Regions from separate parts of the Homo sapiens genome. Here region 2 is linked to region 1. The links come from fine-mapping of genetic effects on gene expression. A gene starts in region 1. The other region holds a variant in brackets. All regions are shown on one strand. Distances are between the middles of the regions.

The links. PIP is the estimated chance that this variant, and not a neighbour inherited with it, causes the effect. A credible set is the group of variants that fine-mapping cannot tell apart.
Region 2: its variant is the best candidate, but not a certain one, in a credible set for the expression of IBA57 in whole blood (INTERVAL, PIP 0.73).

The regions. Positions count from the first base shown.
Region 1 is chr1:228,164,068-228,167,094 of GRCh38, forward strand. It overlaps IBA57 (iron-sulfur cluster assembly factor IBA57), which reads left to right and starts at 1,737. Exons shown (of 3, transcript NM_001010867.4): 1 at 1,737-2,090. The coding sequence starts at 1,750. It overlaps IBA57-DT (IBA57 divergent transcript), which reads right to left and starts at 1,445. Exons shown (of 2, transcript NR_103540.1): 1 at 1,407-1,445; 2 at 19-425. It overlaps LOC124904534 (a long non-coding RNA gene), which reads left to right. Exons shown (of 2, transcript XR_007066913.1): 2 at 83-1,115. RefSeq lists an enhancer at 1,322-2,224 and a silencer at 1,329-2,368.
Region 2 is chr1:228,044,920-228,047,419 of GRCh38, forward strand. The region is part of intron 2 of WNT3A (Wnt family member 3A); the gene reads left to right. Among named protein-coding and RNA genes, the nearest start is that of LINC02809, 30 kb to the right of the region's middle. The variant G/C (reference allele first, on the strand shown) is at 1,229.

The sequences.
Region 1 (3,027 bases):
GCCCCACACCACATGATGCGCCTTGGTGCAGTCTTCCTCACTGATGTTACTACGCATCATGAGGAATTTTTTTATTCAACAGATACAAAGACCTCTGCTTGCTGGGACTCTGCACCATAAGGACACATTGAGTAAGTCTTCTTTGGTGCTTTGAGTGGAGGGCAGTGGAGAGGGGAATGTCAACAGGGTGCATGGGCCCCAGGAGGCCAGCAAGGCAGGGATGGCTTGGACCAGGGCAGTCAGACTCTAGGGCTGAAGGCTGCTGGGGCCACCTTGTAGATGTGTCACCTACTACCAGGGAAAGTGGCCACTGTACAGGGCTGCTCAGCAGGGGGTATGGGACATCACTCCTCGAGAAAGCACGGTGGGGTGGATATGTCATAGCAGTGTGTGGTTCCTGCCTAAATTGTCCTCTGTGAGTTCAGCTGTGAAGAGAGGACGAGAGTTATTGGAAGGACGTCCTGTGGTCTGGAAGGACGTCCTGTGGGAGGACAGGCTGGGCTCCAGGGGAGCTTGGAATCCTGCACTGAAGAGGACTATAGACACATGATGGGGGTGACCCTGGCCTGAAAAAAGCAGAAGTTACCAAGGATGTGATTTGAAGCTGTGATTGTGTCTCATCATGTCACACTGATTAGGGGTGCGGAGGGGTTGTGGGCTGGATGGTGCCTGTCCTTATCCGTGGAGACACTTGGGGATGGAGCCTCCTGCCACCTGCAGCTGAAGTCCCAATGGTCCAGCAAATGAAAAAAATGACACAACAGCCACACGTGGACGCTGGCGAACTGGTAGGAAAGAGGAAGCGGCCGGGTGCGGTAGCTCACGCCTGTAATCCCAGCACTTTGGGAGGCCAAAGCCGGTGAATCGCTTGAGCCTAGGAGTTTGAGACCAGCCTGGACAACATGGGGAGACCATTTCTACAAAAAAAATACAAAAATTAGCTGGTGTGGTGGCTAGCGCCTGTAGTTCCAGCTACTCAAGAGGCTGAGGAGGGAGGACTGCCTGAGCTCTGGAGCTTGAGGCCAGCCTGGGCAACATAACCAAGACCCTGTCTTTACAAAAAATAAAAATAAAAATAAAAATAAAAATAAAATGCTGATACATGCTAGACCGTGGATGGACTTTGAGAATACTATGCTGAGTGAAATAAGCCGTCGCAAACGACAAATCCCGTAGGATTCTGCTCCTGTGAGGTCCCTAGAGGAGGCACGCTCATGGAGCCAGAAGGTACAATGGGAGCTCCAGGGCCTCGGGAGTGGGTGTTTAACAGGGAGTTTCAGGTTGGGAGGATGAAGAGGTTCTCGAGATGAGTGACGGTGCCCGACATGGGTGGGTGAAAACGAGGAAGGCCACCGAATGGGACATGGGATGGCGCTTAAGAGGCCGGCAGAAACCTCGTTACCTACCGAGGGTGGAGCCTGCGTGCTGACGGATAGGCCGAGTCCCCGCCCCGAAACACACCCCGCGCACGATGCTCCGCCCCACACGCATGCCCCACCCACCCAGCAGGCACGCTCGCCCCGCCCGCCCCTTCCAGCTCGGGAGGCCCTGCTCCTCACGCACGCACTCTCAGTCGGCCTCAACCGGCGCTGCTCCGCCCCTCAGGCACGCACGTTCCGTTCACCCCTCACGCACGCACTCTGCGCCCGCCCCTTCCCGCCTCCCTCCGGCGGCCACCGCCAGGGGCCGCTGTGGCACCCGCCCCTCCCGCTTCCTTGGGCCCTTCCCGCTGCCCCACTCTTGTCCAAGATGGCGACCGCGGCGCTGCTTCGAGGCGCCACTCCGGGGCGCGGCGGCCCGGTCTGGCGCTGGCGGCTGCGCGCGGCCCCAAGGTGCCGCCTGGCCCACAGCTCCTGCAGTCCTGGTGGCGACCCAACGGCCGGAGCGGCCTGGGCCTGCTTCCGGCTGGACGGGCGCACCCTGCTGCGCGTGCGTGGCCCCGACGCGGCGCCCTTCCTGCTAGGGCTGCTGACCAATGAACTGCCGCTTCCGAGTCCTGCGGCCGCGGGGGCCCCGCCTGCTGCGCGCGCGGGCTACGCCCACTTCCTGAACGTGCAGGGCCGGACGCTCTATGACGTCATCTTGTACGGGTGAGCGCGTGCTGGGAGGGCGCTCGGGGGCGGGCACCCAGGGGAGTGGCCAGGGACCGGCACCCAGGGACAGGGCGGGCGCCCGGGGCCTGCAGAGGGCGTGGGGGGTGGGCACCCGGGGAGGGCCGGGATGGGGTGGAAGCTCAAGGGTGGGTGGGCCAGCGACTGGCACTCAGGGTCAGGCACCCAGGAGATTCCACTTGGGATGGACACCCAGGGGAAGCTCACCCAGGGCCCAGCACCCGGGGGAGGGCACCCAGAGGAGGGCTTGGCTCAACACCCAGGGATGGGTCAGCGACTCATCCAGGGGAGGCCTGGGGGCCAGCCCACCATATCAGAGCAGAGGCGTCTCTAGGTGGGCACCTCCCAAGTGGGCCATCTGGTGACCCTTCTCCCTCCGCAGGGACAAGGGGTTCAGGGGCCCCGCCTGGTGGCAGAGCTGTGTTTCTGAGTGACAGCTTGTGGTGACACTCCCGAGTTCTGTTTACCTTGTGTTTCCCTGTGTCTCCCCATAGCTGGTCACATTGGCATTTGGCTCAGTCATCTGTGCTGACATCACGACTGTCAGTGATGTTCATGCCGGGTCAGGGCCTTGACTGCTTACAGCCTTGGGTTTCCCTTGCCCAGCTTCCAGGGACCTGGATCCCTGAAACCTCCGCCCGGTGGAGTGGATCTGGTTCGCGGCCGCCTGCCTGCTGTCCCTGCTATGGCGGACCCGGTTCTTGTTCTCTTCAGCTTACTCCTGTGTTTTGGTTTCAGGGGATGGACACCTTTTTAATGACTTCCTGAGCTACGTGGGGTGAATTTTTGGACTCATTGTGTCTCTGCTAGTGGCTTTACCTGATATCCTGGCTGGGTGTAAAAATCTAGCTTGGAAATTGTCACCGACAATGTTCACATCACAACTTTGTTTTCTCGCTGCCAGCTTTTCTGAGAA
Region 2 (2,500 bases), 120 kb before region 1:
TCTTGTCTTCAGTCTTCACGAGTGAATTGAAGGCCTGCTCCAGGGTTTTCTCAGCCTGGCAGGGAGCTCCACCTCCACATGTGATGGAAGAGAAAATCAAGGTTCAGCCAGCTGGTGACCAAACTGAGCAAGAATGAGCTCTTTTCTGTCCAAGTGGAAGCCCTCAGCACCACCCGCCCTTGCCCTTGAGTGTGTCTGGCTATTGGGGCTGTTTGCCTGAGTTTTGATAAGCAGGGATCTCGAGGCCCTTGTTATGGGCAGGGCATGAGTGAGGCACAGAGAGCCCTAGCCTCAGGCTCTGGTTCTCCTCTTACCAGAAGCTCAGGAGCAAGAGGGAGGGGCTGGCCTTGGAGACAGACTCTTGTAGTAGCCAGGCCGTGAGGTGGGAAGGCAGACTCAGCTGGGGTGGGGTATTCAGGGTGTGGGATGCCCAGGCCATTTGGGAGTGAGAAGGTCCGGCCAGGAGGGCAGGTGGAGCTGTGTGCCATGCGTGAGCTCCAGGAGCACCCAGGACACTCCTCAACTCTACCTCTCAAGCTGCCCTAGAAGGGAAGCAGGGCAGATGGCAGGGGAAGGGGCGCTGACTAGGGAGGGGACGACCTGAGTCCTTTAAAGACAAGAACAGGCGCTCAGGCCTGGAGGCTTAGAGAGGAAGTGCTCTGCATCCAGCCACACGTGTATTCACTCAGAGGCAGTGGGTTCAGCAAAGGCCCCTCCAGGCCTGTCTGTGAACTGATCAGTTGTGTTAGGGAAGTAACATGGGGTCAGGGGTGGGGGCTTTAAGTTTCTTGGAGAGGTGCGGAGGAGGTGGCTGCCTAGCTGCTCCCTGGGAAAGGAAACAGCGGAGGTTGCATGATGGGCCTGGGTGCCTTAGAGGGGCAAGGGTGGGTCTGCTCTGGGTAGGCTCAGACCCTGCTCATTCCTTGACTCAGCCCACGGCTCCTGCCTTTCATTCTGGCCCCAGGAAATATCTATGGGCTGGGCCTTGTGCTCCAGATTGCAAATAAAAGGTGAGCCAAACAGTCCCTGCCCCTAGGCAGCCGCGGCTAGGGAGGGAGTCAGTGGGCAAATCTTCCTGGTTGGGGAGGGGCAGCCAGGTGTAGAGGACACCCGATCCCTGGCCGCTCCCCTCAGAGCAGGCAGGGGCACAGCAGGTCCAGCCTGAGCCAAGGAAGGAACCGGAAAGAGCCCGAGGGGAGGACAAAGGGCTGAGTGCGGCCTGAGGCCA[G/C]GGAGTGGCATTGAGGTCAGGAGAGGAGATAGATCCAGAGGGGGCCTGGCATGGCCAAACTGGCATTGGGCGAAGACCTCAGCCTGCAGATAGTGTGTTGCGAGGGAGAGGTGTGCATGTGTGTGCATGCATGTGTTTGCATGTGTGTGGTGCACATGTGGAGGGGTGTGTGTGTGTGTGCATCTGTGTGCATGCATGTGTTTGTGTGTGGTGGGTTGTGAATGTATATGTGCATCCGTGGGAGGTGTGCATGTGTGTGGTGTGTATGGTGTGCATGCATGCATATGTATGTGTGTGCATGTGTCTGTGTGTGCATTGCACGAGGCGTGCATGTGGGGGTTGTGTGTGCATGTATGTGTATGGTATTCATGTATGTGTATGTGTTGTGTGGTGTGTGTGTGTATTTGTGTGTGTGCATGTGCATGGGGTGGGGTGTGTATATGTGGGGTATGTGCATGCATGTGTGTGCATGTGTATGGTATGTGTGGTATGCCTGCATGGTGTGCATGTGTGGGGGGGATGTGCATGTATGTGAGTGCATGTGTATGCTGTGCTTGCATGCATGTGTATATGTGTTCATGTATGTAGTGGGGTGTGCATGTGTGCTTGTGTGTGGTGGGGTGTGCATGTGTGTGCATGCGTGTGATGTGTGCATGTGTGTGGTGTGCATGCCTATATGTGTGTGTTTGCATGTGTGTGTGCATGTGCATCAGGTGGGGTGTGCATGTGTGTGTGGTATGCATGTGTCTGTGTGCGCACGCATGTGCGCATGTGGCTGTGCATGCATGTGGTGGAAGGAGGAAGCTGGAGGCTGGGGCCTCCTAGGGGCCTCTTCATGGCGAGGTGGGAGATGGACCCACAGATAAGAACCAGGAGGGGCAAATTGGCTGAGAGGCCCCAGGGCCACCTGGGAAGGCCACAGCAGCCTGGGCGGCTGGGGCTGTTTCAGGACTGGACAGTCTCCAGCCAGCAAGCAGAGCCCTTCCTGAGCTGGTGGTGGGAAGTGGATACAGAAGAAATGGACAGTTTTCTTCTGGGCTTGTGGCTGGATGCAGTGGGTGTCCAGGCCTGACTTGGACAGGGCCCTAGGGAGGGACGGGGCTGCTGGGACCCGCCATCAGGGGGCTGTTGGCCAATCCACAGAAAAGTCAACCAAAGCAGGCCCGAGGGGCTCAGGGGGCTTTGTCAACAGCCAGGGGGATGCCAGTGCAAAGCCATAGCCTCAAATACCTTCCACTTTGTATGTTCTTGTTATGGGAGCAACGTGCGTTC